Homo sapiens: one gene and its partners. The protein of the gene in region 5 purifies or fractionates together with the protein of the main gene of each other region. This does not show direct contact. Each region holds a gene or a part of one and is shown on either strand. Other genes may lie near its edges. The genes, in order: RNF166, CBR4, POMGNT1, CLGN, CLEC4E, SLC7A11 and MYO6.

What was found.
Region 1: the proteins of CLEC4E (region 5) and RNF166 purify together in Homo sapiens (affinity purification with mass spectrometry; 2 studies listed by BioGRID and IntAct, with this or other methods). This does not show direct contact.
Region 2: the proteins of CLEC4E (region 5) and CBR4 purify together in Homo sapiens (affinity purification with mass spectrometry; one large-scale study listed by BioGRID and IntAct). This does not show direct contact.
Region 3: the proteins of CLEC4E (region 5) and POMGNT1 purify together in Homo sapiens (affinity purification with mass spectrometry; one large-scale study listed by BioGRID and IntAct). This does not show direct contact.
Region 4: the proteins of CLEC4E (region 5) and CLGN purify together in Homo sapiens (affinity purification with mass spectrometry; 2 studies listed by BioGRID and IntAct, with this or other methods). This does not show direct contact.
Region 6: the proteins of CLEC4E (region 5) and SLC7A11 purify together in Homo sapiens (affinity purification with mass spectrometry; one large-scale study listed by BioGRID and IntAct). This does not show direct contact.
Region 7: the proteins of CLEC4E (region 5) and MYO6 purify together in Homo sapiens (affinity purification with mass spectrometry, with the first as the bait; one large-scale study listed by BioGRID). This does not show direct contact.

Annotation. Positions count from the first base shown.
Region 1 is NC_000016.10:88,696,409-88,699,908, reverse strand, and holds the end of RNF166 (E3 ubiquitin-protein ligase RNF166), read left to right. Parts: exon of another isoform or gene 1-175; intron 176-176; coding exon 177-289; intron 290-823; coding exon 824-938; intron 939-1,299; coding exon 1,300-1,407; intron 1,408-1,793; coding exon of another isoform or gene 1,794-1,975; intron 1,976-2,275; coding exon 2,276-2,341; 3' UTR 2,342-3,408; downstream 3,409-3,500. UniProt on the Homo sapiens protein: E3 ubiquitin-protein ligase that promotes the ubiquitination of different substrates. In turn, participates in different biological processes including interferon production or autophagy.
Region 2 is NC_000004.12:168,987,090-168,990,172, reverse strand, and holds the end of CBR4 (3-oxoacyl-[acyl-carrier-protein] reductase), read left to right. Parts: coding exon 1-23; 3' UTR 24-2,583; downstream 2,584-3,083. UniProt on the Homo sapiens protein: Component of the heterotetramer complex KAR (3-ketoacyl-[acyl carrier protein] reductase or 3-ketoacyl-[ACP] reductase) that forms part of the mitochondrial fatty acid synthase (mtFAS).
Region 3 is NC_000001.11:46,191,935-46,195,434, reverse strand, and holds part of POMGNT1 (protein O-linked-mannose beta-1,2-N-acetylglucosaminyltransferase 1), read left to right. Parts: intron 1-473; coding exon 474-591; intron 592-783; coding exon 784-882; intron 883-1,033; coding exon 1,034-1,161; intron 1,162-1,509; coding exon 1,510-1,580; intron 1,581-1,795; coding exon 1,796-1,871; intron 1,872-2,046; coding exon 2,047-2,130; intron 2,131-2,219; coding exon 2,220-2,261; intron 2,262-2,476; coding exon 2,477-2,535; intron 2,536-2,844; coding exon 2,845-2,917; intron 2,918-2,998; coding exon 2,999-3,127; intron 3,128-3,211; coding exon 3,212-3,337; intron 3,338-3,500. UniProt on the Homo sapiens protein: Participates in O-mannosyl glycosylation by catalyzing the addition of N-acetylglucosamine to O-linked mannose on glycoproteins.
Region 4 is NC_000004.12:140,403,649-140,407,148, reverse strand, and holds part of CLGN (calmegin precursor), read left to right. Parts: intron 1-1,065; coding exon 1,066-1,207; intron 1,208-3,500. UniProt on the Homo sapiens protein: Functions during spermatogenesis as a chaperone for a range of client proteins that are important for sperm adhesion onto the egg zona pellucida and for subsequent penetration of the zona pellucida.
Region 5 is NC_000012.12:8,532,805-8,535,355, reverse strand, and holds the end of CLEC4E (C-type lectin domain family 4 member E), read left to right. Parts: intron 1-546; coding exon 547-718; 3' UTR 719-2,051; downstream 2,052-2,551.
Region 6 is NC_000004.12:138,163,597-138,166,473, reverse strand, and holds the end of SLC7A11 (cystine/glutamate transporter), read left to right. Parts: 3' UTR 1-2,377; downstream 2,378-2,877. UniProt on the Homo sapiens protein: Heterodimer with SLC3A2, that functions as an antiporter by mediating the exchange of extracellular anionic L-cystine and intracellular L-glutamate across the cellular plasma membrane.
Region 7 is NC_000006.12:75,881,739-75,885,238, forward strand, and holds part of MYO6 (unconventional myosin-VI), read left to right. Parts: coding exon 1-80; intron 81-3,500. UniProt on the Homo sapiens protein: Myosins are actin-based motor molecules with ATPase activity. Unconventional myosins serve in intracellular movements. Myosin 6 is a reverse-direction motor protein that moves towards the minus-end of actin filaments.

The DNA of each region.
Region 1 (3,500 bases), on a different chromosome or scaffold from region 5:
TGGCTGCTCAGTGCCTGAGATTGTTTTAGCAGCAGAAGGGACCGGGTCCCCCTGCTGCTGGCAACACAGACGCTTGCTTACAGTTCTCTGGTCCTGGACACCTGAGGTCTCGGCCTCCCCAGGACGGCCCTTCCAGATTCTCAGGACCGCCTTGCCCTCCCTGCCCTGTCTCCTAGGTGACCCTGGCAAAGATGAGAGTGCACATTTCGTCCTGCCTGAAGGTCCAGGAGCAGATGGCCAACTGCCCCAAGTTCGTCCCCGTGGTGCCCACATCACAGCCTATCCCCAGGTAGGCACGCTGCCGGGCAAGGGAGAGGAACTGTCCTCGGCGGTTTCCTCGTTCTGGGAGCAAGCGCAGTGCCCCATCCCAGAGAGGCTGGGGGAGTCACCCGGGGCCGGGTCCACTCTGGGGAAGTGGACCTTCCTTGCCACCCTGCAGGAAGGCTCCTGTGCTGCCCTCCCTGGCATACCCACCAGGCCCCCTGGGGTAGGGACAGCTCAGCTGTGGGGAGCAGGAGGAGGGCGCAGGCCGGGCCCACACATCGCCTCCCAGCAGGTGGATGGGCCGAGAGACGGCTCCTGCCAGGGCAGCGCCAGCAGAGTCTCTGCCGTTTGGCTGGCCTAGTTGTGTGGGGTGGACGAGGGTCCTGGGTGTGTCCTCAGGAGGCCATGGCGTGCAGAGGCACGGGGGGCACCCAGCCACTGCCACGCTCTTGCAGCCTACAGAGGGCAGGCCTGGGGCCACGCCTGTGTTTGAGAGAAGCGGGGAGGCAGAGCCCCTAGACACCTAGCCGTGCCACTCACTCTACCCCCGCCCCGCCAGCAACATCCCCAACAGGTCCACCTTCGCCTGCCCGTACTGTGGTGCCCGCAACCTGGACCAGCAGGAGCTGGTGAAGCACTGTGTGGAAAGCCACCGCAGCGACCCCAACCGCGTGGTGAGCAGTGCCTGCCCCAAGCGACGCCTGCGCCAGGGGAGGCCTGTGGGGGACAGTACAAGGCCCAGGAGCCTGCTCGCGGCGAGTCCGGGGGTGCCCAGGCCACAAAGGCCTCCTGGGACCCAGGGTGGGAACTTGGCTGCCCGAGCAGCACCTGGCGGAAACCGGGGAGTGTCCATGAGTCCTTCAGGGTGACGCGCACTGAATAACTCGCTTGTCACCGGGACACGCGCCTCCAGGTCTGGGGTGCCTTCCCAGGCTGAGGCAGCACTGACGGGGCTCAGTGGAGGGCCCCCAGTCCTACTGCGGCTACCCCGCCTCTCCGCGGTCCGGCTCGGCTTGACCCCAGTGCCTGTTCCAGGTGTGCCCCATCTGCTCGGCAATGCCCTGGGGGGACCCCAGCTACAAGAGCGCCAACTTCCTGCAGCACCTGCTTCACCGACACAAGTTCTCCTACGACACCTTTGTGGTAGGCATCCCGCCAGCACCGTCCTCCCCCACGCCCTCCTCATCCACCCTCCTCCTGCTCGGGCCCCTCGCCAGCCTCAGGGTCCGCAGGGTTCAGAGGAAGCCAGAAACAGAAGCCTCGTTTCAGGTGGCCACATTCCCCCAGGTTCTGTGGGGGCTGCCTGCAGGTGGGGAGTGATGGCAGCTGAGTTTGAGTGGCCACTAGAGGGTGCCCAGGCCTCTCGGGGACATGGACCGCACAGGGCAGGTCCCTGCCTGCCCACCCCACAGAACCCCTCGAGGGTGAGCCAGGCTTCCTTCTGGAAGCTTTCTAGAGAGCGCGGGAAGGACTTTCATCAACATCGAACACTCCAGCCCTGTCTCCTTTTCCCACCCGCCGCGGGTCAGGCACACACCTGGCCCCCGGGCCTGCAGACCCTCGCACAAACTCCTCACTCCTGGTGCGGCCCCTCCCTGCGCCGCCCTGTTCATTCCTGGCCCTGGCTAACAGTCCTGGCGATGGCTGTCACTCCCTCTGCCAGTCGTCCGGGACCCACGCTCCGCCTGCCTCAGGATGGAAATTGTTAGAGGTCAGGGAGCCCTGGCCGGCCTGCTCACCTCGGAAACCCCGGGCTTAGAGTCCGACCTGAACCAGCAGCCATCCATTCCGAGTGCCCCCGTACCCAGCGGGTGATGGACACACCTTCACCTTCTCACCCCCCAGAGGACCGTGCAGGCCCCGAGCCTGTGGGGACAGTGGAGCTGGGTCCTTCCTGTGTCCTGCTGGAGGGAGGCAGGAAGGGTGGACACGCCTGTGTGGGTGATGGGCAGAGGGGACCTCTCCTTCCTGTCTCCCTCGAGCCCGGTGCATCTCTCCTTCCTGTCTCCAGGACTACAGTATTGACGAGGAGGCCGCCTTCCAGGCTGCTCTGGCCCTGTCTCTCTCTGAGAACTGAAGGGAAGCGCAGCCACCCGCCTGCGTCTGGGGTCAGGGATGTCCCCGCTCCTGTGTCGCACCTGGCACCTGCTCGGGAGCGCACCTCACCGGACTGAGCTCACAGGAGGAGCCTGCACCCGCGCAGAAGGGGAGCCGGGGCCGAGCCTCCGGGCCTGAATACGGGCCAGCCGCCGAGGCCGCCAGAGCAGGGCCGCCTGGTCCCACCGGCGTCGCTGGGTTCTTCGGTGCTTCTGGCCGAGCAGGCGGCCTACTTGGGCAGGGCTGGACGCTGGGACCTGGAGCTGCCGCCGTCTCTTCAAAGCCATGATACCCCCTCGTGGGAAGAAGGGACCGACGCGCGAGTCGCGCTCCGCAGTCGAGCCGGGAGGAACCCAGGCTGCTGCCCTGCCCAGCCCGACCCTGCCCCGGCCCCACTTCCACCTTGCGCATTTGGTACTGGCTTTTGTGATACTTAGGAACCCTGGCATCTTTTCTATATTATCCAGTGTGATAATCTTTTCACGTTTTATAGAGCAAAGACAGAGCAGTTACTCTTCATATTGCAATATCTGTGTTTGACTAGGAATAATAGTATTTTTATGGAACATTTACAAAATTATATTTTTTAAGAAAACAATCAAAACAAGCATTGGGGGATTGGGGCAAGGATGGAAGGAGCAGTGGGGCAGCTGCCAGAGCTCAGGCGAGCCATGGGGTCTGCTGTGGGGTCTGCCCTGGCCACCCACTGTGTGTCTGGGTCCTTGAGGTTTGTACGTTTCTCTTTGATGACCAGGAAGAAATCCCAGCACCCCAGCCACAGGCTGTGGCTGCTCCCAGCAGAGGCGGGGCCGGCAGAGAAGGGGCCTCCTCCACCCAGAGTCCTGGCCTTGGCCCGCTGTCACCTTCAAAGCTGACTGTGCCCCGCTGCGGGAGGGGACGGCACCCCAGTGGTGGCAGAGCTTGGGGGCCTGGGCAGGGGCCCGCTTGGCGGGCCGGGCAACACGTCAACATTCTTTTCTGTTCTTGGCATTAATTATTGCTGTCTTTTTTTTAAAAAAAAAAGTTTAAATAAAATGTCTCAGAGCATCTCTAGCAGCCTCGACTGGCTTTTGTGCTCCACGGTGTGGAATCGCCAGCTGCTGTCTGTGTTGGAGGTCGGCTGTGTCCTCCCCAGGCAG
Region 2 (3,083 bases), on a different chromosome or scaffold from region 5:
GGGGATTACAACTCATTTTGTAATTTGCAGATTATTCAGTTATAGGGGTGATTAGCATCAAGGGCACACTTTGGCTACTGATTAGACAATTATACCTACATGGGTAACATGTGCTAATCAAACCTGCTGATGCTACAAATGTTAATTTCTGTCTTTATAAAAATATGTCTCAAAAGAACAATGTGTGACAAATTGTGGTTTTTTTTTTTTTGGTCTAAGTTACATCAGTGTTGTTTTGTTTAAAAAGCCTTCATGAGATACAATTCACATACCATATAATCACACATTTAAAATACACAATTCAGTGGTTTTAACATATTTAAATACATGTGCAATCATCCCCCCAGACAAATTGTGTTTTCTAAAGGATGTGTATCACTTACCTTTGGTTACCTCATAGACTGTAGCAATCTTAGTGTATAGACATTTTGCAAGTCATATAAACAAGTATTGATTTATATATTTTGTCTCAAAAGTGGAAAAATTATATTGTCTAATTATGATGAATTATTTTCTTGTATCAAGCTGAATTTTCTAAAAGTTAACCTTGTGGGCTGTTGCCAAAATAAGAGTATTTAGAGGACACTGATTAGTTGTCAATACTTTAGCAAGCCCACTAAAGATAACTATATTCCTTTTGCATGTGCTTGGGTGATCAGTTTTTATACAGGTTGCAAAACATAGTATTCATTAAAGACATGAATTTAGAATTGATTTCTTTGAGTGGTATTTCTCTTGATTGAGCAGCTAGACAAAATAATCTGCAAATTTAAATGTGGCGCATTTGACTCATTCTTGAGAAATTCTCATAAGTGAAGAGGATTAGCCCTTAAGGTTTTAATACCTGGTACAGTAGTGAACCGCACAGATTTCATGAACTTAGGATGTGTTTTTTATTCATGAAAAACTTAGAATAGTGAACTATTAATATTTAAAAACGAGAAATACAACATTTAAAAAATTAAGAGTATTTTGCATTAGTGATTATGATTCTTATCCCAAAATTCTAGAAAGTAATAAATTCTGTATGAATAAGCATAAAAAATAAATAAATATGCAATAACATTAAATTAAATGTCTTTACAAGAAGCAGTGAAGGCACTGGTCTTAAGTGAGAATATTTGCCTGGGAGTAGAGATAAAGACACAAACCGAATGTGAAATACCAGGTAATAATTATTTTGCATTAAACTCTTTTTATCGGGAATAGTATGATATTTTCAGTGTCACTCCATTCATGTTGATTTGGAGCTGACAGTTATTTTGTGTAAGCAGAGATTTAATTTTATATTGAAAGTCAGTGCAAAATTATGAATAGGATATACTAATAAATACAAAGTAATAACAAAAGTCAAAGCAGTGTTCTAAATAAAAATTCTGGGTTCCTTAAAAATTATTTTAAATTTATCTTTGAAATAGTTTTCTTAGATTAATCTCAGGATATGAGAAAGTCAATTAAGTGTGAGTAAAGTTAGTATCATTAAACAAATTGTCTATTAAATGCAAGACGTGGTAATATACAGAATTTATCAGGCATTACCAAGTCTAGGCACATATAGGAAATGCAGCACTCAGAATGGTTTCAATGTAGTAGTTGATGCTTGTAAGGTAGGGGAGCTTATTCAGACATAGTAGATAGTTTCTCTAATGCTGTCTCAATTGCTGGCCTTTGGCTACCTGTACTTCCCCATTATGGCAGCCCATTCAGTCTTGAGTTTTCTTCTCTGGACACCTTATGCTCTGAAATCATGAGCGAGGCTGATTCAATTGGTGATTTGGGTAGAAAGCAGTATGTTTTGCTGACATTAAGATGTAGGTTATAGATAGGTTTAGCCTTTAAGTGTATGTTTTTATACTTTAAAATAAGAAATATAACCTTTTAAGCTATTCCACCTCCTCCCCCAGCCTATCTCAAACTGGTGGAATATATGGAGAGATCTTGAAAGAGGTAAAATAAACCTTCACTGCTCCACTCCAGGTGAATCCGCCCACTCCCACTGACCTAGTAGAATTTGTAATTTAATACTTACCTTCTATTTCTGAAATCAGTTGTGAACTGTTGCCTTATGTTCAGAGGTTTAAGAACCTCAGTGAATTCATTTTTTAAAATCTGCTATTCTGAGAAGCATTGAATGAATTCTTAACAAGAAGACTCATCTGTAGCTGTTTGCTGACTCCTATGAGCCCATAAGGGTTCTGTGCTTAGCATTAACAAAATAAGGTTTATAGGTAAAGCCAATGTATTAATTTTTTTTTGCATGGAGGGCTTTAAAATTTGTGCTCTTTTTCATATTTTATTCATATTCAATTTATGGTTTGTAACTGCTTTTTAGGGAGATAATTATATGTTATAAATTAGTTTTGGGGGGAATAATTGTGCAAAGAGGATAATTTAATTTACGTGCTTCTGTTATTCAGAATAAAGAGAGAAGACTACGCTGCATATTCAAGAGTTGTACCTTAACATTGGTGAAACATTTTTTCTAAGATTTTCAAAAGGAATATGTGTAAATTGAGAAATCATAACCACTGTCCTAACTTGGTAAACAAACTGTTCTTAAATAAAGTATTTAATGATTTTAAACTTTCTGATGTTAATTTTATCTTTCTCTGCAACTATAAGAGTAGAGTTTAAAAATTTGTCTTTCAATTCAATTGTAAAACTTTTGAGGGAAGAGACCATACTGTGTTCATTCATTTAGCTAATTAAGTAACTCAACAGATACTGAGTGGGTACTAAATATTTTGTATTTGTTTTGATACCCACACCTTGCCTACTCATCTCTGAGTATATTGGATATATGCAGTAAAATATTCTTTAGTCATTACATTGTGCCATAGTTGGGGAGATCATTGAGATAAATCTGTTCTGACTCTCAGTTCATATCTTGGAATATTTCTTGATCAGATTCCTTTGGCTTTTTATGCGACTTTGATGCTTGCTTTCACTTTATAACTGAATTTGCAAAGTGAATCGACTATTTTCTCTTAGGCAGTATGCTTTCAGTTTGAGTAATTGTTAATACCAGCAATTTAATTAGAAAGCTTTGGCCTAATAATCCAAATGGAGATGGTATCAGTATT
Region 3 (3,500 bases), on a different chromosome or scaffold from region 5:
TAGAAAGAGAAGGCCCCTGCAAGGAGATGATATGTGAGCAGAAAGCTGAGGAATTGAGGAGTGAGCCAGGTGAGTATCTGGAGGAAGAGCATTCCAGGTGGAAAGAATGGCAAGTGCAAAGCCCCTATAGTGGGAAGGTACACGGCATATTTGAGGAACAGCAAAGATGCTAGTCGAGGTGGAGCAGAATAAGGGAGGAGAGTAGGAGAGTGGTTGGAAAAGAAGGCAGAGAGTGGCGGGAGAGAGAGGTGCAGATCGTGTGGGTTTGTGGAAAGGACTTATTAGCTGGATGACCTTAGAATCTCTAAGCCTTCAGTTATTATTTTATCTGTGAAAGAGAGTAACCATAGAGGGTTATTGCAATAATGTAATGAGCTATTTTAAGTAAAAGGTTGCTACATAGTTCGTGCTCTGTGAGGCCAGGTCTCCTGGAACCATGCCAGTCAGGCTAACTGCCTTCTCTGGTCCCCCAGGATGAGGGCTCCTTCCACCTCAAGGACACAGCCAAGGCTCTGCTGAGGAGCCTGGGCAGCCAGGCTGGCCCTGCCCTGGGCTGGAGGGACACATGGGCCTTCGTGGGACGAAAAGGAGGTGCCGGCATCAGAGGCCATCCACTCTGTAGTATCAAGAGCCTGGGAGGAGCAGAACCCTAGGAGATGGGGTGGGGTGGGGAACAAATAGGAGCCAGTGGCAGTGGGTTGGATGAAAGTAGGCAGGGAGATGGGAAAAAGCCCCCAAACTGGTGTCTGGGCCCCCATGGCCCTCATTCCTGCCTCCTGCCAGGTCCTGTCTTCGGGGAGAAACATTCTAAATCACCTGCCCTCTCTTCCTGGGGGGACCCAGTCCTGCTGAAGACAGATGTGCCATTGAGCTCAGCAGAAGGTGGAGTTAGTGGAGCATGGATGGGGCAGGGCCTGGGCTGGGGGTGGGCATTTAGATCTCTCTGTGGAGCTTTATTCCTTTGATTGTGTGCCTGGGGCTCTTCAAACCTTGCTGGCCCCATGCCTCCATGACAACCGCATCCTTCCCTCAGAGGCAGAGTGCCACTGGGCAGACACAGAGCTGAACCGTCGCCGCCGGCGCTTCTGCAGCAAAGTTGAGGGCTATGGAAGTGTATGCAGCTGCAAGGACCCCACACCCATCGAGTTCAGCCCTGACCCAGTGAGTGGGGCCTTAAGACAGTGAGGTTTGGACTCCTTCCCAGCTCAGCAGGGGGGCCCCAGGAATGATCTAGGTTGGGCTTTCCCTACCTGAGCCTGGGAGAGAACCAGGGGCAGGATTTACACTGCGCTCTGAAAGACAGGGCTGGGGTGAAGGGGCAGGCCATGTGAGTAAAGCTCAGCGCTAGAGTTGGGCTGAGTGTGTGGAGAGCCCAGAACAGGGAAGATCCTCTATCCCTTCCCTGTCTACTCCAGTCTGCACCTACCCTCACCTGAGAAGTCTTCCCTAGGTGGGGATCCCAGTTTGAAGGGGGAATAAGGCAAGAGCTAAACGCTATTTCTCCCACAGCTCCCAGACAACAAGGTCCTCAATGTGCCTGTGGCTGTCATTGCAGGGAACCGACCCAATTACCTGTACAGGTAAGCCTGGGAATGGGCTATACCCAGCACTGAACAGGAGGGTGCTTAGGTCATCTACCTCCAGGAGGAACTCTTGAGGTGGGCAGAAAGGCAATAGATTCTAGACGCATTCACCTCTGTGGGTAAGCATAGGGACTCTGGGCCCAGCTGTAAACACAGGGGAACCTGAGTTGAGGGGTGATGAAGTGACCCTAACCTATCCCTGGGCTCCCCAGGATGCTGCGCTCTCTGCTTTCAGCCCAGGGGGTGTCTCCTCAGATGATAACAGTTTTCATTGACGGCTACTATGAGGTGAGCAGGACTTGGGGGGTGCCTCGGGTGGAGTACAACATGGAGCAGCAGTGATTGCCAGGGACGGGCAAGGGAGACCGCCCAGGCAAGGGCTGTGAAATGTGAAGGCCTTGGATTGCAGAGGTGGGCAGAGGGAAAGTGACCTCACATGGTGAGCAGTGGCCATGTCCCCCAGGAACCCATGGATGTGGTGGCACTGTTTGGTCTGAGGGGCATCCAGCATACTCCCATCAGCATCAAGAATGCCCGCGTGTCTCAGGTACTGCATAGGCAAGTGGGGATGGGGCAGACACCTGGCTCTGCCTTCTACCCTAAAGCTCATGTGCCCTATTCCCACCCCACTCCCAGCACTACAAGGCCAGCCTCACTGCCACTTTCAACCTGTTTCCGGTGAGTACTAAGGATACAACTCTTGGGCCTGGGAGGGGGGAAACATGGGCATAAGGTCTGGGCCTGTTACGTGGCAAGCTCTTCCCCTCACTGGGCCTCATCCTTCACATCTGGAAAATGGGGGTAATGCTGCCTGCAAGAAGAGGGTTGGGGGCAAAGGAGATCACAGGATGGAGAGACCCCTTTGGGACCATGATGTCCCATTCCCCTTCTAGGAGGCCAAGTTTGCTGTGGTTCTGGAAGAGGACCTGGACATTGCTGTGGATTTTTTCAGGTGAGGGGAGTCTCTAGGTTTCAGTTGAGGTCCCTCAGTCTGCAGGGAAAGAGTCAGTGAGGTGTCCTAGAGAGCTTTCTGGAGGACATGAGCTCACAAGTGGGGGCGAAGCCTGGGCAAAGGTAGGATGGCAGGTGTTGGGGCTGCTGTTGAAGGTACAGTGGATGAATGGAGACAGTGGGGATTTGGGGGAAGGAGGTACTCCAGGAAGGAGGTGCTCCTGAGACCCAGCTCCAGCAATTCTAGCATCTCTGTGTGACTAGATTTATCCTTGTCCCTCCCTGAACTCTTTGACCCTGCCTCTCTCAGTTTCCTGAGCCAATCCATCCACCTACTGGAGGAGGATGACAGCCTGTACTGCATCTCTGCCTGGAATGACCAGGTAGGCTGGAATGACCAGGGTTTAGCAGGCGAGTTTATGAGGCCTCAGCTAATACCTCCCACTATGGCACCCTGTCCCCAGGGGTATGAACACACGGCTGAGGACCCAGCACTACTGTACCGTGTGGAGACCATGCCTGGGCTGGGCTGGGTGCTCAGGAGGTCCTTGTACAAGGAGGAGCTTGAGCCCAAGTGGCCTACACCGGAAAAGGTAACTGTCAGGGTAGGGTGAGGGGGCTGGAGTCCCCTACCAACTCGAAACATCTTAACCTTCATCGTGGTCCATGTCTGCCAGCTCTGGGATTGGGACATGTGGATGCGGATGCCTGAACAACGCCGGGGCCGAGAGTGCATCATCCCTGACGTTTCCCGATCCTACCACTTTGGCATCGTCGGCCTCAACATGAATGGCTACTTTCACGTGAGTGGGAGGCAGGGAGCAGGGCACAGTGTGGCATGACAGTCAAGAACAAGAACATGGACTCTGAAGCAATCTTAGCTCTGCTACTTGCTAGCCATGTAACCTTGGGGAAAGAGCTATCCTATTTTTGCCTCAGTTTCTTTATCTGAAAAATGAGGATAAA
Region 4 (3,500 bases), on a different chromosome or scaffold from region 5:
AAACTTGGAAACTTAATAAAAACACACACATTTTTAAAAGTCTAAAAATGTATGTACAATTATAGACCAAAAATTACCCCTCTTTGATTTATAAGACTGTGTCTGGTTCTTGCATTATTTTTCTTAGAAAGAAAAAAAATGATATAAGAGCATTTGTGATTCAAAAGTGCTCATTAATGAATATTTTGAGTTGACACAATACTGGAAAATAGCCAGTTTTGTCGAATTGAATTTTCTTGGAATAGGCAATACCTATCATTTTCAAAACAGAAGATTTTACACAAACAAATATAAGTTGATTTTCTATTCTAAAACCAGTAAAGGAGTAAAGTCTAACATATAACTTTTGGGCTATAGGTAGCCCACCTAGCTTTGCATTGTATGTGGCCCATAATCTAATTTCAGGAATGTCCTGATCTTAACATGGAAAATTGTAACACAGAGAAGGCCTAACTCAGTTTTGCCTTGTTGTAGCTTAGCACTTATGCAGTGCTTTGCTGCCTTCCTGGCCAAAAGTTCTGAGAGCTGATTAGTGTACCCTGAGAAGGGTTTGTGTGAATTAAGCATGCAGTTTTCAAAATGAACTTTAAATCTTTACAATAACTGCTGCAAGTAAGAAAAGTAGCTGATGAGTATTGTGCATTTCAAAATAAATAGACTACTCATTTTGTGTTATGTGTCATATGCAGTTTCAAATATGTCATTTTGAAAATACAATATTGACATACCCTATTGAGACAAACCACATTTTATAATTTCATTGATTAAAAACTCTTTCATAGAAAAACCAAACTAATTCAGCTTTAAGAGTGACTTAATTAGACACTATAGTGTTTGCTATTAGTTTTCACAACTTTAGTTAAGAAGATGAAATCATTCTTTGATAGAAAAAAAAAGATAAATGAGCAGGCATACATATATAGTTGAAGATATTTCCTGATTTAAAATTTTTATTTTTCCCAAGTCAGGCTTCCTGGATAAAAATTATTGTTCACAACTGCTGATAAATAATTCTTAGGTCAATGTTTTCTGTTTTAGTTTAATTTGCTTTGCTTTATTTTTTAGGAAGATGGGAAATTGAAGAGTTGAAAGAAAACCAGGTACCTGGTGACAGAGGACTGGTATTAAAATCTAGAGCAAAGCATCATGCAATATCTGCTGTATTAGCAAAACCATTCATTTTTGCTGATAAACCCTTGATAGTTCAGTAAGTGTTGCTATGTTTTTGAATACTTTTTCTGAATTTTGTATTAGCTTTGGCTTCTGAATATAGCTTGTATTTTGAAAATGGATGTGAAAATCTAGATCTTCCTTTTTCGTTTCACTTAGTTAAAACACAAATGTGCATATACACACAAACATATCCATGCTTTCAATAAAAAGCAGGTAAATGATAAAATTATACAAAGATCAACCATTCTTATGGCCTAGTACTAATATTTATATTTGTTTATTTCAAGGAGTTGTATGTGGGCTATTAAGCAGCATATTTCCTTTGGTCTGAGTGCTTGTATTGACTAAATGAGGAATAAATAGTTTGGCTCTCTTAAAAAAATTTAAAAATTATGTGATATATACTGTAATATATACAATTCTGCTGTCATAAACTATATAATGCATAGTAAAAATCACCATTTTTGTTTTACTCTTAAAATTACTTGTTATCGCCGGGCGCGGTGGCTCACGCCTGTAATCCCAGCACTTTGGGAGGCCGAGGCGGGCAGATCACGAGGTCAGGAGATCGAGACCATCCTGGCTAAAACGGTGAAACCCCGTCTCTACTAAAAATACAAAAAATTAGCCGGGCGTAGTGGCGGGCGCCTGTAGTCCCAGCTACTTGGGAGGCTGAGGCAGGAGAATGGCGTGAACCCGGGAGGCGGAGCTTGCAGTGAGCCGAGATCCCGCCACTGCACTCCAGCCTGGGCGACAGAGCGAGACTCCGTCTCAAAAAAAAAAATAAAAAAAAAAATAAAAATAAAAAAAATTACTTGTTATCAAAATATTAAACAATATATTCAGAACAGAATAATAAAAATTGCTATTAAACCAGTGATAAGATTCAAAGGCAGAAAATTTATTTCAAAAATAAATGTTTATGAATACCAGTGTCTTTCAAGCAGGGACCCCTTTTAAAGGTCACATTCTCACAGATAATCCTTTCTTTCAACCTCTCCACCTCCCCACCATGCCTGGCATGGTGCCTCATGCCTCATGTGTGTAATCCCAGCACTTTGGGAGGCCTAGGTGGGCAGACAGCTTGAACCCAGGAGTTCAAGACCAACCTGGCAACATGGCAAAACCCCGACTCTACAAAAAAATTTTAAAAATTAGCCAGGCATGGTGGTGCCCGACTGTAGTCCCAGCTACTCTGGAGGCTGAGGTGGGAGGATCACCTAAGCCCAGGAAGTCGAGGCTGCAGTGAGCCAAGGTCACACCAGTGCATTGCAGCCTGGGTGACAGAATGAGATCTTGCCTCAAAAAAAAAGAAAGAAAGAAAAAAAAAGAGGACCAAGAATTGAATAGCAGTCTTTCATATGTTTAAAAACAATTCAAAGGAGAGTGAATGTTTGTCTCCTCTTAATATTGATAAAATGAAATGGGGTAAATAAAATGAAGAGATTTATATTCAATGCTATAAATGCTGATTTACAACATAACTTTACTATAAAGCTGCTTTTCCCAAATTGTATACATGTTAATATATATGAATATAATTAAAGATGAAGAATATCCTAACTCAAAACGTAGGAAGTAAAGGCCTGGCGCAGTGCTTCACACCTGTAATCCCAGCACTTTGGGAGGCCAAGGTGGGTGGATCACGAGGTCAGGAGATCAAGACCATCCTGTCTAACATGGTGAAACCCTGTCTCTACTAAAAATACAAAAAATTAGCCGGGTGTGGTGGCAGGCGCCTGTAGCCCCAGCTACTCGGGAGGCTGAGGCAGGAGAATGGCGTGAACCCGGGAGGCAGGGCTTGCAGTGAGCCGAGATCATGCCACTGCACTCCAGCCTGGGCAACTGGGCAACAGAGTGAGACTGTCTCAAAAAAAAAATAAATAAATAAATAAAAATAAAATTAAAAAAGGAAGTATGTTAGCTCATTAAAGACTGAGAAGTTCTACATATGAAAACCTGTTTTCAGCATTACTACTGTGTTTCCCAAACACATTTGATCACATAAGTTTATTTTCCCACCTAACAGTAATTGCTATTTCATGGAACAATTTGAGAAATGATACTCTAAAGAAATTAAGGTTACCATATACTCTGCATATGTCCTTGGTTTTCCTATGACTGGAAGTTTAGCAGTAGTCAAGCTGTATGATAAACATTTTGTTGATCCTCTAATCCATTGTGAATCATTTATACTAGGTAAAAGTTAATTATTTGAAAACTCTAAAAGTTTGCAGTATAAGAAATGGACAAGGTGATTGAATCTAGGCATAATGGAACAATGAAACTGTGTTCACATTTATGCAGCCACTGTACAAAATTGTTTT
Region 5 (2,551 bases):
AGTATTATTAATCTTTATTTAGCATTTGAGGAAACTAAAACTCAGCAGAGTTAAGTGACTTAGCTAATGAGCAGTTCTAAGAGTACAACAGAGATACTCTGACATGTTAGAAATGCTGCTTCACTACCACACTGTAACATCACTGCAGGATGCACCTAAGTTAATACACACTCTGTGCAGAATAAAGAGAGCTAAGCCGATATGAGGTATGAGTGTGAAGAAAACAAATCTATCAGAATATCAATCTTCCCCATAACTTCTCATTCTATAGCTAAGGAACAGGACAGAATAGAAAAGGAACAAAGGAACAGGACAGAATAGAAAGTCAGAAAGATCCGGTTCAGCTTCAGTACTCACAAACTGTGACTTCGACAACTAGTTTAGCTTCCTGAGGTTCCTTTTCTTCTTCAATAAAATGGACATTATAATACCTACCTCGCAAAATTGTTGTGAGGTTAAATAACACAAATGTAATTTGCCTAGTATATTAGGTTACTTTACCTCTTTTTGCTGGGATTTTAAGTCTCCTATGTCATTCTTTTTCAGCTTCTGGGATGTAGGGGAGCCCAACAACATAGCTACCCTGGAGGACTGTGCCACCATGAGAGACTCTTCAAACCCAAGGCAAAATTGGAATGATGTAACCTGTTTCCTCAATTATTTTCGGATTTGTGAAATGGTAGGAATAAATCCTTTGAACAAAGGAAAATCTCTTTAAGAACAGAAGGCACAACTCAAATGTGTAAAGAAGGAAGAGCAAGAACATGGCCACACCCACCGCCCCACACGAGAAATTTGTGCGCTGAACTTCAAAGGACTTCATAAGTATTTGTTACTCTGATATAAATAAAAATAAGTAGTTTTAAATGTTATAATTCATGTTACTGGCTGAAGTGCATTTTCTCTCTACGTTAGTCTCAGGTCCTCTTCCCAGAATTTACAAAGCAATTCACTACCTTTTGCTACATTTGCCTCATTTTTTAGTGTTCGTATGAAAGTACAGGGACACGGAGCCAAGACAGAGTCTAGCAAAGAAGGGGATTTTGGAAGGTGCCTTCCAAAAATCTCCTGAATCCGGGCTCTGTAGCAGGTCCTCTTCTTTCTAGCTTCTGACAAGTCTGTCTTCTCTTCTTGGTTTCATACCGTTCTTATCTCCTGCCCAAGCATATATCGTCTCTTTACTCCCCTGTATAATGAGTAAGAAGCTTCTTCAAGTCATGAAACTTATTCCTGCTCAGAATACCGGTGTGGCCTTTCTGGCTACAGGCCTCCACTGCACCTTCTTAGGGAAGGGCATGCCAGCCATCAGCTCCAAACAGGCTGTAACCAAGTCCACCCATCCCTGGGGCTTCCTTTGCTCTGCCTTATTTTCAATTGACTGAATGGATCTCACCAGATTTTGTATCTATTGCTCAGCTAGGACCCGAGTCCAATAGTCAATTTATTCTAAGCGAACATTCATCTCCACACTTTCCTGTCTCAAGCCCATCCATTATTTCTTAACTTTTATTTTAGCTTTCGGGGGTACATGTTAAAGGCTTTTTATATAGGTAAACTCATGTCGTGGAGGTTTGTTGTACAGATTATTTCATCACCCAGGTATTAAGCCCAGTGCCTAATATTGTTTTTTTCGGCTCCTCTCCCTCCTCCTACCTTCCGCCCTCAAGTAGACTCCAGTGTCTGTTATTCCCTTCTTTGTGTTTATGAATTCTCATCATTTAGCTCCCACTTATAAGTGAGGACATGCAGTATTTGGTTTTCTGTTCCCATGTTTGCTAAGGATAATGGTCTCCAGTTCTACCGATGTTCCCACAAAAGACATAATCTTCTTTTTTAAGGCTGCTTAGTATTCCATGGTATCTATGTATCACATTTTCTCTATCCAATCTATTGTTGACTCACATTTAGATTGATTCCATGTTTTTGCTATTGTGAATAGTGCTGCAATGAACATTCGTGTGCATGTGTCTTTATGGTAGAAAGATTTATATTTCTCTGAGTATGTATCCAGTAATAGCCCATTCATTTATTGCATAAAATTCTACCAATACTGATGACGTTATTAAAGAGTACATCAATAACGTGGCAGCTTTCATAACCATGTTTCTTGCACAAAGTGCCATGAGGAGACCCTCAAAATTCAATCACTGGACACCACGTGTAATCACTGAATGAGAAAATTCAACTGGACAAGTGAATATAACACATCAGCTTTCATTGCAAAAGTTTATTTCTCTTAGGCATTGTGACAATCTGGTTTTCAAATCAACACATCTTTAAGCCAATTATTTAACCTAAAAGTAATTTTAAACATACTTTCAACTTTCTAATTCCCTTTTTTAAAATCATGAACATCAATAAGGAGATGCTGAAAGACTTTTTTTTTGTTCATTGGTGTTTCCCTGAAGGTGGCTATAATTTAAGTTTTATTTCTAGATTGAAAGACATATGGAAATATTATTCCATATTATTTCTCCATATATATTTAGAATTTAAGTTTAAAGACAAGTTTTAAAGACAGGTTTATAAAACTAAACTTGTCTTTACAGTT
Region 6 (2,877 bases), on a different chromosome or scaffold from region 5:
TTGTTAAAGCCTCAGAAGGCCGTGCTGAAAGCCAGAGGGGAAAAAAAGAGTAATGCACAGGTATCTCTTTTGCAGTGGTGACTGTATTTTGAGTACCTTGTGTGACAGGGTATTATTACAGCATCTTGTGGGAAAACCTATTAGGCCTTTGCATGTTAAAGCTGTATAATTTGTTGGGTTGTGAGTGGTCTGACTTAAATGTGTATTATAAAATTTAGACATCAAATTTTCCTACTAACTAACTTTATTAGATGCATACTTGGAAGCACAGTCATATCACACTGGGAGGCAATGCAATGTGGTTACCTGGTCCTAGGTTTGAACTGTCTTATTTCAAAAGATTTCTGAATTAATTTTTCCCTAGAATTTCTCCTTCATTCCAAAGTACAAACATACTTTGAAGAATGAAACAGATTGTTCCCATGAATGTATGCTCATACTCGACTAGAAACGATCTATGTTAAATGACTGTGTATATGAATTATTTCAAGTACTACCCCAAATAACTTTCTTATTGCTCTGAAAGAAGAAAAGCAATGTAAATCACTATGATTATTGCACAAACAACCAGAATTCTCCAACAATTTTAAGTAATCTGATCCTCTTCTTGGAGAAAATTGTTACCTAATAGTTTTTCCTTATGAATGTTATTACTACTGGTATAAATCAAATTTCTATAAATTTCCTACTTAAGTCTTAAGAACTGGGTTCTTCCTTTGATGTTATTCATGTTCAGAAAGGAAACAACACTTTACTCTTTTAGGACAATTCCTAGAATCTATAGTAGTATCAGGATATATTTTGCTTTAAAATATATTTTGGTTATTTTGAATACAGACATTGGCTCCAAATTTTCATCTTTGCACAATAGTATGACTTTTCACTAGAACTTCTCAACATTTGGGAACTTTGCAAATATGAGCATCATATGTGTTAAGGCTGTATCATTTAATGCTATGAGATACATTGTTTTCTCCCTATGCCAAACAGGTGAACAAACGTAGTTGTTTTTTACTGATACTAAATGTTGGCTACCTGTGATTTTATAGTATGCACATGTCAGAAAAAGGCAAGACAAATGGCCTCTTGTACTGAATACTTCGGCAAACTTATTGGGTCTTCATTTTCTGACAGACAGGATTTGACTCAATATTTGTAGAGCTTGCGTAGAATGGATTACATGGTAGTGATGCACTGGTAGAAATGGTTTTTAGTTATTGACTCAGAATTCATCTCAGGATGAATCTTTTATGTCTTTTTATTGTAAGCATATCTGAATTTACTTTATAAAGATGGTTTTAGAAAGCTTTGTCTAAAAATTTGGCCTAGGAATGGTAACTTCATTTTCAGTTGCCAAGGGGTAGAAAAATAATATGTGTGTTGTTATGTTTATGTTAACATATTATTAGGTACTATCTATGAATGTATTTAAATATTTTTCATATTCTGTGACAAGCATTTATAATTTGCAACAAGTGGAGTCCATTTAGCCCAGTGGGAAAGTCTTGGAACTCAGGTTACCCTTGAAGGATATGCTGGCAGCCATCTCTTTGATCTGTGCTTAAACTGTAATTTATAGACCAGCTAAATCCCTAACTTGGATCTGGAATGCATTAGTTATGACCTTGTACCATTCCCAGAATTTCAGGGGCATCGTGGGTTTGGTCTAGTGATTGAAAACACAAGAACAGAGAGATCCAGCTGAAAAAGAGTGATCCTCAATATCCTAACTAACTGGTCCTCAACTCAAGCAGAGTTTCTTCACTCTGGCACTGTGATCATGAAACTTAGTAGAGGGGATTGTGTGTATTTTATACAAATTTAATACAATGTCTTACATTGATAAAATTCTTAAAGAGCAAAACTGCATTTTATTTCTGCATCCACATTCCAATCATATTAGAACTAAGATATTTATCTATGAAGATATAAATGGTGCAGAGAGACTTTCATCTGTGGATTGCGTTGTTTCTTAGGGTTCCTAGCACTGATGCCTGCACAAGCATGTGATATGTGAAATAAAATGGATTCTTCTATAGCTAAATGAGTTCCCTCTGGGGAGAGTTCTGGTACTGCAATCACAATGCCAGATGGTGTTTATGGGCTATTTGTGTAAGTAAGTGGTAAGATGCTATGAAGTAAGTGTGTTTGTTTTCATCTTATGGAAACTCTTGATGCATGTGCTTTTGTATGGAATAAATTTTGGTGCAATATGATGTCATTCAACTTTGCATTGAATTGAATTTTGGTTGTATTTATATGTATTATACCTGTCACGCTTCTAGTTGCTTCAACCATTTTATAACCATTTTTGTACATATTTTACTTGAAAATATTTTAAATGGAAATTTAAATAAACATTTGATAGTTTACATAATAAATGTCGTCATGTTTTGCTTTCTTTTTAAGCAGTGTATATTCATTTAAATTGAAGGCCTTAGTTTTAATGATTGATTGAATTTATCTATTACTGATTCCCCAAATTTGTTGGAGCATCCCACTTTACACCAGTTTCCTGTACTAAAAACTGGAAGTGTTGGCAGACCCAGTCTCCTGGAAACACTCTTCTTTTCTTTCTCATGGTCTACATCCATCTGTCCTCTGGTCTGAAATATCTAGCTCCTCTTCTATTTCCACCTGTACAAGTTCAAAATCTTTTCATTTCAGGCCTTTAACAAGAATTTTGTCTTTTATCTCTTTACACTCTCAACTGTTTCCCCAGAATGTTCTTCCTGAAACTCAAATGAGGTCAAAATTTTCAATGGTTTCACATTTATATATATATATATATATATATTTTATTTTGTGGATGGATAAAATTCAAACTCCTCCATGTAACACATAGGGCTTTCCATCACCTGTCACCTTTCTTTCTCC
Region 7 (3,500 bases), on a different chromosome or scaffold from region 5:
GTTGGTTAAAAGAGTCAATCACTGGCTCACATGCAGTCGCTGGAAGAAAGTTCAGTGGTGCTCACTCTCAGTCATCAAATGTAGGTGTTTTCCTTTACACCTATAGGATCTTTCATTGTTTCAAGATGGTTTGTGGAGTGTTGTAAAGCTGTCTCAGAGGTGATGCTGAGCAACAGAGACTGAGACTTGTTCACACTGGGTCCCAGGTTCCTATTTGTAGATGTTCTTTCTTTTTTTATTTTTTGAGTGTATGATATTTATTTTCTTTATTCAAATGTGTTATAAGAGTGTCAGTTTCATAGTGTCCTAACAAAACAGAATTCACTATCTTGATCTCTCGTCCCCGCACCCCTCACCATCCCCTAATCTCTCAGACTTAAACCAGAACTTTTCTTTCTGCCTGCATGGCATCTACAATACACATACCCCGAAAATTCTAATTGTAATTGATTTTCCTTTCTTATCCCTGAAATATTGTCAGTCACCAGATCCTGTTGATTCCTTCTCCAAATACTGTACATTCCTTTCTTTTTCTTGCCAGTGCCTTAGTGAAGTCCTTTTCCACCTTTTGCATAATAATTCCATTAGCTCCCAGACTGGTTTTCCTGGTTTCTTAGAGATATCTCTCTAAACTAGAAGCCTTTTATAACTTTCCTTTCATAAAAGGTGAAGTCTAAATTATTTGATGTCTTTCAAGATCATGTAAAATGGTGTGTCAGTTTTTTGTTTCAGTCTCTTCCCCCACCATCCCCTCTTAAATCCTGTTTTTTGAACGGAAGTCTGTCATAATCCTGAAAGACACTGTCTTGAACACCATAATCCCAAATGTTGAAATCTTAAAAGATGAAAGTCCCAAAACTAGGATTCTGTAAAAATAATAAAAAAAGATATTTATTTACATTTTAAAAAGGGGATTTGAGAAACGTATAAAAACATGACAGAACTCTTCATAGGCCACTTTTCACAATAAAATAGGCAATAACATATATATAGGCAATAAACATATATGTTTATTGAAACTATAAACACATATACTAACAATAGTTGCATGGGTATAACAGGAGCAGACAAACCGTATTCATAAAGAATAGGGCGAAAGGTGAAATGCATAAACACATATTATTGTGGTTGGTAATTGTGCACCCAGCTTTGTTACTGCAGTCATCTGAAATACTGTGATGATGAACAAGCTGTCTTTTGATGAGATCAGTCAAAAACCATAGTGAGTCACCACTGCATTTGTAGTTGCCCAGAGAACTGAAATCTTGAGAAATTTTATCTTTTACAAGTGCAGATGTATGATAAAGGACATCTGTTCATTGATTAAGTTTCAGTGTTTTTATATACATACACAATGTTTACCCAGAAAGTAAATGTTGTGGTAATGCATTTTCATGGAGTTAAATTTGCAAAAAATGAATACAGTAAATTAGAACTCTCCAAAAATTTCTACATAATTAAAAAATGCTAACAATTTAAGATAGTGAAAATAAAAACAAAGAAAAAAAAAACACCCAAAACTAAAAAGGAAGTTTGACATAAAAAAAAGTGTATCACAGGGACAGATTATAGGCAGTTGCATGGAGATAGTCCATAGAGCTGGCTGTCTTTCTCAGTCATTAACTATATTTTGAAGTCTTGTACCACGAATAATAGGTGCTTTTTTTCTTTTAGGACATGGTTCTTGGAGAATATGTTCATATTCATTTTCTTCATGAGATTGCTCTTTTTGGAATTCTTCTGTGATTCCTCTGATTGGGATTTTTAGGATTTTTGATGTTAGGGATTTTAATCTAGGAATTTTGATCTTTTGGGATTTCAACATTTGGGATTATGGCTTTTGGGATTAGGAATTCAAACCCCTTTGACATACTGGGCTAAGCTGCTTTTATGTGTGGTTTGGCCAGGTCATAGCAGCTACATAGCTGGCCCAAGACAAAAGTGAGGGACAGAACATTTTGGGGTTACCTAAGGATCTGTGGCAAACCTTTAATTGTTGGGAGCTGTGTAGGAATCAGTAACTTGATTACATTTACAGTTGCCCCTTATACTCATCAGAGTACCTGAAATAGTGCTAGGTACATGAAAAGGATCCAGCGAATTTTTCCTTATCAGTAGAAAAGGAAAATTCTTTTGGCCTAATGAAAAAGAATCATGCTAACAAAGATTATTTTTGAGGTATTTTGTTAGACAATTGTGAATATAGATAAAAAGAGAACTATTAATATAAAAAGAAAAAAGATAGCAGAATCTTTTCCCCATCATTTTCCAAATAAAATACAGAAACATCTTTATTACTGTAGTTTAATACGTTCAGCTTTACACATTGCATTATGATAGGAAACACATTATAGTAAACTCATCTGTTACACCATTCATTTGTGGACTGTGTTCTACAGTGGTACCGAAGTCAGTAACCGGGCAGGGATCTTTGCAGAATGTTAATAGGAAACTCTGAAAAAAAAGTTCAAGGTCAGATCATCCTAGGAAATTGTGAGTAACTGAAGTTAAGTAGATTTCTTTGCTGTAGGATTCTCAGAGGCTTCACTCAGTATGTTCATTGTGAACCTCCATACAGAAGTATAGTGTACAGCTTTTCATAAACTCATTTGACAGGTAAATCCTTTTTTCAGGACATACCTATTCACATTTCATAGAACAAATGTTGCCTAAGACAGTTTGGGAGGTAGCAGTGTAGCATACTAAGGAAATAATGCATTTAAAATGTAAGCCTAACCAGATACATGATATTGTAACTGCCCAGTGGGTTCTCCTTGCCCACTACCCAGACAGAGCTGATTTATCAAGATAGGAATTGCAGTAGAGAGACAGTAATTAATGTAGAGTCGGCTGTACGGGACACTGGAGTTTTATGATTACTCAAATCAGTCTCTCTGAAAACTCGGAGATCTGAATTTTTAAGGATAATTTGGTAGGTAGGGGCTTGGGTTGGAGATGAAATCATAGGGGGTCAAAATTGAGTTTTTCTTGCTTGCTTCTGTTCCTGTGTGGGAGCACAGAACTGGCTGGGCCGGATTACCTATCTAGGTGGCATCAGCTGGTGCATTGGAAGGTCTGCAAAATATCTGGAGCACTGATTTTAGGTGTTACAACTGTGATGTTATACCTGGGAGCAATTTGAGGAGGTTCAGATTCATGCAGCTGGAGGCTGTGTGGCTCCTAAACCGTAATTTCTAATCTTGGAGCTAATTTGTTAGTCCTACAAAGGCTGACTGGTTCCCCAGGCAAGAAGGGGGTTTATTTTGGGAAAGGGTTATTATCATGTTTGTTTCAAAGTTAAACTTTAATAAACTAAGTTCTTTCCCAAGATTAGTTCGGCCTACACCCAGGAATGAACAAGGACAGCTTAGAGGTTAGAAGCAAGATGGAGTTGGTTAGGTCAGATCTCTTTTACATAATTTCCTTGGTTGTAATTTTTGCAAAGGCAAAATTACATCTTTCAACATCTTTTTATTTTTAAGAAGAATAAGAAATTATAG